Linked DNA regions of Homo sapiens. The protein of the gene in region 1 interacts with the protein of each later gene in a pairwise test. Each region holds a gene or a part of one and is shown in the gene's direction. Other genes may lie near its edges.

Evidence for each region.
Region 2: the proteins of RSPH1 (region 1) and SDHA interact in a two-hybrid assay, tested with the Homo sapiens proteins (one large-scale study listed by BioGRID and IntAct).
Region 3: the proteins of RSPH1 (region 1) and HIVEP2 interact in a two-hybrid assay, tested with the Homo sapiens proteins (one large-scale study listed by BioGRID and IntAct).

Annotation. Positions count from the first base shown.
Region 1 is NC_000021.9:42,472,203-42,475,854, reverse strand, and holds the end of RSPH1 (radial spoke head 1 homolog), read left to right. Parts: intron 1-2,984; coding exon 2,985-3,037; 3' UTR 3,038-3,369; downstream 3,370-3,652.
Region 2 is NC_000005.10:224,668-228,319, forward strand, and holds part of SDHA (succinate dehydrogenase [ubiquinone] flavoprotein subunit, mitochondrial), read left to right. Parts: intron 1-751; coding exon 752-895; intron 896-1,215; coding exon 1,216-1,380; intron 1,381-3,517; coding exon 3,518-3,652. UniProt on the Homo sapiens protein: Flavoprotein (FP) subunit of succinate dehydrogenase (SDH) that is involved in complex II of the mitochondrial electron transport chain and is responsible for transferring electrons from succinate to ubiquinone (coenzyme Q).
Region 3 is NC_000006.12:142,763,580-142,767,231, reverse strand, and holds part of HIVEP2 (transcription factor HIVEP2), read left to right. Parts: intron 1-2,257; coding exon 2,258-2,433; intron 2,434-3,652.

The DNA of each region.
Region 1 (3,652 bases):
GGGGCCACGAACAGTGGGATTCCCCTTCCCTTCACCAAGGCCTGCCTTCAGCTGGGCCCCAGGGACTCGAGGAAGGCTTAGGGGGCCCCCTGTGAGCGCTCACTGGAGCCATCTCAGAACGTTGCTCCCTGGCAGGCCCTCCTGCAAGCCTGGCTGCAGTGGGAGAGGCCTGGGTGTGCAGCGGTGCCCATGCGCGTTGTCACAGGAGGACCGACCCCAGGCTGGAGAGCCCTGTCAGACATGCAGAGCCTGGCTTTCTTCTGTTGCATGATTTTTTTTTTTTTTTTGAGATGGAGTCTTGCTATGTCACCCAGGCTGGAGTACAGTGGTGCGATCTTGGCTCACTGCAACCTCCACCTCACTGGTTCAAGCAATTCCCCTGCCTCAGCATCCCAAGTAGCTGGGATTACAGGTGCATGCCACCATGCCCGGCTAATTTTTTTGTATTTTTAGTAGAGGTGGGTTTCACCGTGTTGGACAGACTGGTCTCAAACTCCTGACCTCACACAGGAGGCCCGCCTCGGCCTCCCAAAGTGCTGGGATTTGCATGATTTTTAGCAGGGCTGACTAACAGGAGTATGGTTTCAGACTAGTGGTGTCGGGAACTAGCTCTTTTTCAATGGGTTTGGATGTAAGATTAATCTAGAAACTTCTGCCTCTGCCAGCTCATAGGGCAGGGATTTGACCTCAGTTCTGACTGACTGAAGCCTCAGGCTCCTGGAATCTTTAAAAATCTTTCCCCAAGTGCTTGTGGGCACTTGCAGAAAGTCTGGAGAGAGGACTCGCTTCCCTTAACGCACTTTTCACATCTGACTGAAAGAGGGTGTCGTGCTTGTGAGGGAAAGGGCCATCTGGGAACAGCCTGGGCACGGCGGCCTCAGGCACGGGGTCTGCAGTCCCATTCCACTTAGTTTGTCTCTGTTGTAAATTAAGAATATACTTCCCATTCCTTTGAAAATAATACCTGAAATAATGAAATCACATAAAGCAGTTTTCTCTTAGATGCTTGAAGCACACATAGACTTTCGTGATCGGTAATTCCCCTGAGCGCTGGCATAGACTTTCGTGATCGGTAATTCCCCTGAGCGCTGTAGCAATGCACCCAGTGACGCAGTGCTGAGGTGGGACGTGGGGTCAGGTGGAAACCTGGCTTTACAAGTGAGCATCGTCTCTGCTTCTCTGACTTGCACAGGGAGGGTGGATAGAGTGAGCCCTGGTAGGTAGGGAGTCCACAGGATTCTGTTAGGACTGAGTGGCTAGAGTATGCACAGTGTTACAGCAGCATCTAGCTGTGCCCACAGATGTCAGTCCTTAGTCACTGTGGAGCACAGCTGGAGGGGGAGACACTGGGTTTGATAGGCAGTGTGGGAGTGAGGGGCTGGGCTCTCGCCCTCTAGCACCTAATGGGAAGCTGGAATAAAGGAATCAGTGAGTTCCCTGCAGTGACAGGGACGTGTTACCATGTACCCAGGAGAGGTGATGACTCACCTGGGGCAGGACCAGGAAACTCCGGGTTAGCTGGGAGGGAGGTGGCAAGGAATGGGTGAAACCAGGAAGGAAATTCCAGGCAGAGAGCAGAGTCTGACAGCAGAAGAGTGTGGGGGTGGGGAGGTGGCCCCTTTCCCTTGGAACCAGATGGCCTTTGAACTTGATCCTGAGCCCAGTAGGCGGGACCTCTGGGAGCTGTGGGGATTGCCTGTATCAGGCTTGCTCTCTGAGCTTCTCTGGGGCAATGAGGATGGGTGCCCTGGAGCCAGGCAAGGCAGGAGGCCCCAGAAACTTGGTGGGGGAGATAACGGAGGGGATGGAGCAGGAGGAATCCTGAAAACCGGACTGGGAGAGATGGGGCCGAGTGGACGATGCCCAGTACCAGCGGGCGTCTGAGACTGTGGGTTCATGCACCAGCCTTGGACAGAGGGAACACCCCCTTAACTCAGTGGTTTTGGGGCTCCAGGGGACATTTGGCAATGTCTGGAGACTTGGGAGGCTGGTGAGGGAGGTGCTGCTGGCATCTTCCTGGGTGGAGGCCGGGGACGGTGCTGAATACCCTGCAGGGCACAGAACAGCCCCCAGCAAAGGGTCACCCAGGCCACAGTGTCAGGAGGGCCCTAAGTGAAAAGGGAGTAATACAAAATAGGCTTAGTCGGCAGAACATTTATCAAAATAATGCAAGTTCAGCATGTATTCATCATGAATCCCACATTACATTGGAGATTTACCCTGCTAATTTCTTCTTTAATATACCCAACAGTGAAAGTTATAGAGTTTAATTAATAATAAAAAATAGCTCTACCTTTCACAAAACATTTAAATATAGCGTCTTATAAGAATGTGGCAAATTTCTGCTTTTTTTTTTTTTTTTTTTAAGATGGAATCTTGCTCTGTTGCTCAGGCTGAAGTGCAATGGCGTGACCTCGGCTCACTGAAACCTCTGCCACGGGGTTCAAGCGATTCTCTTGCCTCAGCCTCCCAAGTAACTGGGTTGACAGGCATGTACCACCATGCCCAGCTAATTTTTGTATTTTTAGTTGAGACGGGGTTTCACCATGTTGGCCGGGCTGGTCTCGAACTCCTGACCTCAAGTGATCCGCCTGCCTTGGCCTCCCAAAGTGCTGGGATTACAGGCATGAGCCACTGCGCCCGGCCTGCTTTTCTTTTAAATTAATAGCCAAGCAATTACATGTTTTAGCCACAAAGCTGGCTGTTTTGGACAGGTGTGCAGGCATAAGAGAATTACTGATGTTACATGGATAGTCTTGTCTTAGCATTTACTTTGAGTACGTATTTTGCTTATTTTATGTCGGGTACCAAAAGAAAAAACTGTTGAAGTGCATATGAGATAAAATTTAACATTCAATTTTTGACTGATGAATGCTTAATAGTTACAATAATTTTTTTCGGCAAAAGATCTGTTAGTGAATAAAGGCTTTAAAAATAGAACAAAGTAAATATGAGATATACTCATGTTTCTCTTTTCTTTTCAGGAAACATTAATTCTGAAGAAGAAGAAACTAGACAGTCAGACCTCCAGGACTAAGATGAAGTGAGCCGAGAGGAGATCGTATCATAAGAATGCTTCTGTCGTTAGCCGGGTGCAGTGCTGTGTGTATCTAGTTCCAGCTACTTGAGAGGCTGAGGCAGGAGGATTGCTTGAGTCCAGAAAGTGGCAGTTGCAGTGAGTGGAGATCGCGCCACTGCTCTCCAGCCTGGGTGGCAGAGCGAGACCCTGTCTCAAAAAATAAACAAAAACAAAATGCTTCTGTCAGTTAACAATCTTTATTAGAGGGTTTTTAGTCTTTCTTTCTCAGCTGTATGTTAAGTTGATTGACAAATGCAAATAAACGTCTTTATTATCCTTTCTTTCTGAAATAGCCTCTGCTTCAAGTTCTGTAAACTGAAGGTTACCACGTGGTTTTGCCATGGTTTTTCAGTGGTGTCTTCTCCTTGGATAGAGAAAACTGTAAATCTGCGGGAGACGGTGAATGGAAGTTTGGCTTCTGGCTGAGCTGGGAGAGTAGTTCTGTACCCAAACCCCTCTCTCAGATTTCCCACAAGGGAGGTAGGAAGCACTTAGAACATGAGGATTGCTGTGTGCAATGCTCCTCGAATGCAGTGTGATGGGTACACGGCCGGCTTGGGTAGGAGACCGCCC
Region 2 (3,652 bases), on another chromosome or scaffold:
TCTCTCCCTGGAGCCTCTTCCCTGGGGACTTTGAAGGGCGGGAGACTTGTTGTCACTCCTAATTCAGACTCCAGTCACACTTGGGTTTTCTCTGACCATCTTGCCTACTACCTTCCCCACCTACCCCCGCCACCCCAACACCTTAAGAAAAGGAGATCACCTAAAGAGGAGGAATCAGAATTTAGGTTGGGGAAGAAAAGGGCAAGGGTTTCATTTGTCCCTGTGCTTCTGTCTTCTGGGACTCTCTGAGGGGTAAGACAGTGGTGGGCACACACAGCCAAAGGAAGCTGGGGTACAGGGGAGTGCGACTCTGAGTGTGGAGTTTATTACTTGGCAGGAAGCACTTCTAGTCTTTAACACATGCCCGTAAATGCCATTGGGAAGATTTGTTAATAAAATTATCTGGAAAGATTTGTTGAGTACCTTTTCTGTGCCAGATAGGTTAGGTTATAAGCATATTACAGGTAGCCTTTCACTCACTGCTCCAGTCAGCCCTTCCTGGAGTTCCCTGTGTCTCCACCACGCAGATGAGGAGACTGAGGCTAAGGATGGAATCACTGGGCGAGTCGGGGAGGGGTTGTGATCTGGAATCTGTCGGGTCTCGCTGCTCCTCTGCTGAGGTCAGCCCTCACTGGGAGTCACTGTGTGAGTAGTTGGCTTTCTCTGAATCCCCCCAGCGGGTGGATTTGGGCCTGGAAGACAAAGTTGGCGCTCCTGTTTGTGGCTTGTAAGGAGTGGTTGGTGTTTCCAGGGAGGAATCAATGCTGCTCTGGGGAACATGGAGGAGGACAACTGGAGGTGGCATTTCTACGACACCGTGAAGGGCTCCGACTGGCTGGGGGACCAGGATGCCATCCACTACATGACGGAGCAGGCCCCCGCCGCCGTGGTCGAGGTGATGGGCGGGAGGCTCTGGGTGTTCTCGTGGTCTGTTTCTAGTACAAAAGAATCCTGGAAAAAAATGTAAGCAATTGAGGCGGATGTGGCAGCCAAAAGAATGGTGATGAGCAAAGTTCACAAGAAGAGTCTTTTTCCGTTATGAACTATGCATTATATGTAACAAGAAAACTTCTCTTTGATGAAGTGTTGACATTTTCATAAAATAGGTTACTTTGGGTTTGCAGATTTGTGTTAAACTTGTTTAGTGTAGATTAGCTGCGAATATCTTGACTCCTTTAAGGTGTTAAGGTTTTTGTTTGTTTTTATCTTTCACAGCTAGAAAATTATGGCATGCCGTTTAGCAGAACTGAAGATGGGAAGATTTATCAGCGTGCATTTGGTGGACAGAGCCTCAAGTTTGGAAAGGGCGGGCAGGCCCATCGGTGCTGCTGTGTGGCTGATCGGACTGGCCACTCGCTATTGCACACCTTATATGGAAGGGTAAGGCCGCCCCCGTCCACCTGAGACAGGACACGTAGTGCTGGGGCTTATGGTGACAGTGGGGAATGGGTTAGCGTGCCCAGTGAGTCAGCCAGAGATTACGTAAAAAGCAACAGAGAACAGCAGCGTGGGGCGCATGCAGCGACTGTGGATGTGACAGGACCAGACGTGTGCCTTGAGGAGCTGTCCCTAAGGCAGTGTGTGACTTCTTGCATCTATGTCAGAAAGTTGAATCGATAATCTTACATACCAGGTTTTAACTTGGGATATGTGACACTCAACATACAAGAGCAGAGCAAGCAGGCCAGGCACAGTGGCTCAGGTCTGTAATCCCAGCACTTTAGGAGGCCAAGGCAGGAGGATCACTTGAGACCAGAAGTTTGAGACCAGCCTGGACAACATAGCAAGACCCTGTCTCTACAAAAAGTTTAAAAATTAGCTGGGCATGGTGGTACATGCTTGTAATCCCAGTTACTCAGGAGGCTGAGGCTCCTGGATCACTTGAGACCAGGAGGTTGAGGCTACAGTGAGCCATGTTCGTACCACTGCACTCCAGCCTGGGCAACAGGAGACCCTGTCTCAAAAAAAGAGAAAGAACAGGCTGGGTGCGGTGGCTCACGCCTGTAATCCCAGCACTTTGTGAGGCCTAGGCGGGCAGATCACAAGGTCAGGAGTTTGAGGCCATCTTGCCTAACACTGTGAAACCCCGTCTCTACTAAAAATACAAAAAAATTAGCCAGGCATGGTGGCAGGCACCTGTAGTCCCAGCTGCTTGGGAGGCTGAGGCAGGAGAATGGCGTGAACCCAGGAGGCGGAACTTGCAGTGAGCCGAGATCGCACCCCTGCACTCCAGCCTGGGCAACAGAATGAGACTCCATCTCAAAAAAAAAAAAAAAAAAAGAACAAGTATTTTAAGTCTCTTTTACCACCTCTGAGTTCCTGAATGGATTGGTTTTGTTTGTTTTGTTTTGTTTTGTTTTTGAGACGGAGTCTCACTCTGTCACCCAGGCTGGAGTGCAGTAGCACAATCTCAGCTCACTGCTACTTCCACCTCCTGGATTCAAGTGATTCTCCTGCCTCAGCCTCCCGAGTAGCTGGGACTACAGGCGCACGCCACCATGCCTGGCTAATTTTTTGTATTTTAGTAGAGACAGGGTTTCCCATGTTGCCCAGGCTGGTCCCGAACTCCTGAGCTCAGGCAGTCCACCTGCCTTGGCCTCCGAAAGTGCTGGGATTGCAGGCGTGAGCCACCGCACCCGGCCATGGATTGTTTTAATATTAACTGTTAACACTGAAGAAAGACTTGAGGTGACAATAGTTACTGGGTAATCAGAGTCAACTTTGGCATGGCCAAATAATATTCTGAACGGTATTGATTCAGAGTAATCAATATTCTGAACTTTGTTGTTTTCTGATGCATGGGGACGGATCGTTAATTTGCAGGTTGTTAGAACACCAGTGACTTCTCTGTGGCTGAGTGCATCGACAAGTGTGTGGTGGGAGGAGACCGCGGCTCCATCTGGAGCAGGAGCTGTCATGTGGGGAGCTGGCCCAGGCTTACAAGAGCGACTTGTGCTGGCTGAGGGAACGGCAGGTCCAGGCGGGCAGCGCTGTCCGGCGCCTACCTTTCTGCGGTGCCGGAATCTGCTCGTCTGCAACCGTCCGCTTTGGTAGCTGCCAGCCACATGGGGCTGTTGCTAATGTGGCAGGTGTAGCTGAAGAGCTGAATGTTTTGACTTATTTTAATTAATTAAGTGGTTATGTGTTGCCAGTAGCTCCCATCTGGGCTGTGACTGCATGGTCTGCGGACCTCACTCTGGCACCAGACTCCGAGTGGAGCTGCATGCGGCCACCGGACAGTGTGGAGTGCCTCTTCGGGTTGTGTAGAAGTAGGAAATGTGTCACCAAAATAGGAGCTGTTGCTGCTGCGTTCTCTAGCACACCTGCCTTGTCTGTACTGCTCGGCGTGGAATGCCTCTCGGGCTCTGACAGTGTCACTGACACTGTTGCTGATCTCCTTGGATTTACCTGGTCCATTTGGATCAAGTTCTTTCACCTATTCACATGAGCAGATACCACCTTAAAACCTTAAAGTTTGGCTTAACACTTCTTGCCCTTTTTTTTTCCTTTCTTTTAGTCTCTGCGATATGATACCAGCTATTTTGTGGAGTATTTTGCCTTGGATCTCCTGATGGAGAATGGGGAGTGCCGTGGTGTCATCGCACTGTGCATAGAGGACGGGTCCATCCATCGCATAAGAGCAAAGAACACT
Region 3 (3,652 bases), on another chromosome or scaffold:
GGTCCCTGTGACTGAATCAACCCTCTCACATTCAGCAGCCTTCATAGCAGTGTACTTGCACCAATAGATTAGCGAGAACTCCACAATTACTGTATGCTTTGGGGAGCCCATCTCCACTAACGAAGGACACAAGTGAAAAAGCGTATGTGAACATTTTATTGCTGTGTTTTGGTGATCCAAAAGGATTGTGCCCATATTTCATTTCCTCCTCCTTTAATTGCCCCGTTTTATGGGCTGTGTCCCATTACTTCTTAATCTGTGGCCCAATTTCTGCCCAGTGGTGACCAAGTGTTTTTTCCAAACCTTGTGTTACCTCCTCTTATTTTGGCAATTGCAAAGTGATAGCTAAAAAAATAAAAAGTATTACTGACCAAAATTGTAAGTGTATATTGTCTAACTGATAGGTTTAATAATAAATTCAATAATTTAGTTAAACACAGCTTTGAATGTTTTTCAAAATCCATCAATTACCTTATCAAGTAGATTCATGGGCCTGTAGAACTGTTGTATGATATATTATTTATACCAGTTTCTCTAATACATCATTATATTTTATACAGAATTTTACTGTATTTTCATTCTGGAAGCAAGTTAATCAGCTAAGACATTGAAAATAAAATTATACTGCTTGATGATAAAATGCATTTCCCATCACTATGATGGCAGGCTATAGTAAGCTTGAAGTATCCTTCCTTGAAGAAAATTAGCTTTGTACAAAAGTATTTGTTTTAGTCTATATGTCTTAAGCAATTTCATCTAGTTAGGGGCAGAGAATAGTGAAATTTAAAGGTGAAAGACATTTGCATCTTTAGGGTTTTTTCTACTTTATTGCAAAAGACAAAGATAAAATTCAAAATAATTTTGAAGAACAAGTGGAAGTCAAAATTCCTGGTAAAAGGGGGGAAATTTAAAGGAACGGAAGACATGCAAAATTGATTATTCATAGTTTTGAATAGTTTCTACTTAACTCTCATCTGGATTGGTACTGACCAAAAAGTAGATAACGTTAAGATTAGATGTGAATCCGTAACAGAGTTGCTGTTTAAATATGTGGATGGATTTCCTTTCTTAAAATTATTTCAATAGATTGGATGACTGAAGTTAAACTTGCCTTTATTCCTGTTTGTGGATTAGCTAGGATAAAATGAGGAAGTTTGCAATGCTCTTAGAATGTAAAAAAACTGTAAATTTAGTGCCTTTAACTAAATCCACAGTGGATTAGGGCATTTTGCATGTCAGTTTACCTTTGGAAGTTATGAAAAGAACTCCCCAAATGGAGCGTCTTTCCAAAAATAACATTAGACCCAAAATTCTAGCCTAGCTTTGACTTAAGAGATAATGACAGTCATTGAATTAGTCCGTATACTACTACTATATCTTATGACAAATTATGTTTTATTGTATTCTAAAATGGAATGGTTGAGCATTGGGTAGATTTCTTCCCTTGATTATCAAAGAAAATACCTAAGACTGTTTTTCTAGCCGATTTGATTAAGCAAGATGACCTCAGATATCCTTTCAAACATCTCTATGAAACCCTTCTGGAAACAAATGCAAATTTGATTAAAAATAGAATCTCTAGTTTTCATTATGTAACTACCTTGAAGAAGCTAGTTGAAATTTAGACTCCACATTATTACAGATTCATGGTCTTTGGGAAGAGCAGATCAAATCTGTAGACAACAGTTGGTGAGCTGAGCTCACCCTGTGTAAACTAGAAATTTCTGAGGCACTCTCGTGCCAGGATTGTAAAAATAGAGTAGGAACTTGCAATGAAGAATTCTATTATCAGTTATACTTAATTTAGCAAATTTAGAGGGTTGTATGTTTGTACATGTACATCTTAGATGATGTAATGTTAACAAAAGATACATGATGAACATGTTGGTATGCTTTTTGTATGTCCCTTGATTGGAGGCCATACTAGAATCCAGTCCAAAGGTCTGCAGCTCTTTGAGGTTTACATAAGTCATTTTGAACATCTACTTCCCAACTCTATAAATTCACATGTAATAGTGAAGCCAATTCCATTTTGAATTCCATGGAGCATTACATTTTGTTTACAGTGCCAAATCTATTATCTAGTTCTTTCAGCCATTTACTGCATAAATTTCACAGGCTTCGTAGAAGTAAAGTTGAATAATTGTCTGCAAAAGACCCTCATAAAACTTTGCCGTGCAAATAATTAGCTTTTGCTTTAATATATAGCATGCTAAGAATATTTGAAAACACACTGGATTCCCTCTTTTTAAAACAGGTACAAATCGAATGAAGATTATGTATATGTCAGAGGACGTGGCCGGGGAAAGTACATTTGTGAAGAATGTGGGATTCGCTGTAAGAAGCCAAGCATGCTCAAAAAACACATCCGTACCCATACTGATGTTCGGCCTTATGTATGCAAGTTATGTAACTTTGCCTTCAAAACGAAAGGTACAAGTCTGATTTTTTTGAGAGGAAAAATACTTCTCTATGGCTACTTAGATTTCTGAGTGCTATTTTATAACTAACCTTCATCAACAATAAAGATAGTTTGTTTGTGAAAATATGATTCCACGAAATATATTTTCTCCCTCAAGTAAGTGATCAAAGGATGTATGTGAGACTGTGAGGCTCCTTTTATGACTTAATTAAGAGCAGTAGACATAGGTCCAGGCCAGTTGTCTCCAAAGGAAGTGGCTACAAATTGTCTGGATAGCTATTACTTCATGTTGGAAATGTTATGTGGTCTAGATAATATTTACACCAGTATTGAAATCCTGCACATGCAGTGGTATTAGAGAAGCAAGGCAGCAGCTGGGAAGAAAACATGTGCTCTTGGTCAGTTTCAAGATTATAAATAATGTAGAGACCCACACACTCCCAGGTGGGTGCCTTCATCCACAGTTGCATTAATTATGCATAGAAATTTGATAGCTTGTGTTCCCTGTTTTTATCAGCACAGAGACAATTTCTGATTCTCAGTACATAACTGTTAGTCTTATAAAACTAGGACTTGCCTTAAAATTTTTTTTTAAAATCTGTTTTTAACAGGTAGATTTATGTAAAAATATTTTACTCAAGGAAGTTGCTTCGGTTATATTTTTATTTTTTATAATATTATGAAAATGTTCATAAGTCTGGTAGTCTCAGAATACAAACAGTAGTGAATTAGAGGTTGTTCGACTTTTGCAGAAGTGTGTTTTACCTTAGGTTTAGTGGATACTATAGGCACCCCCTCAACACTTTAAATTTTCATATTGATTAATCTGCTCATTCAAGAAAAAGAAATACCAAGTAAAATTATCTTTGGTAGAGAAATGTATACCTATATTCTTTTATAGCTGAAAATCCTAAATTGCTAGAAGTGTAAATGGGTAGCCTCTCAACATATCTGTTTCTCTTTTATTAAAAAGATCTATGTAATAGAATTGCCTCATTTGAAGCTGAAAAAAGTATGTGTTCATTTGTGTCTCAAAAAATAATCATATGGCCTTTTAAATACCACTCACCTCTGCACAATCAAGCCTTTTATACAGAACTTTACTAAGAGATTCCCTAGGAGATAAGAAAATAAAAACTTTGGTTTCAGGGAATATTGCAATTCAATAGTCATTACGAATGATACATATCTTCACTGGGCATATGAGTTTGCTGCAGGTATAGTTGTGTG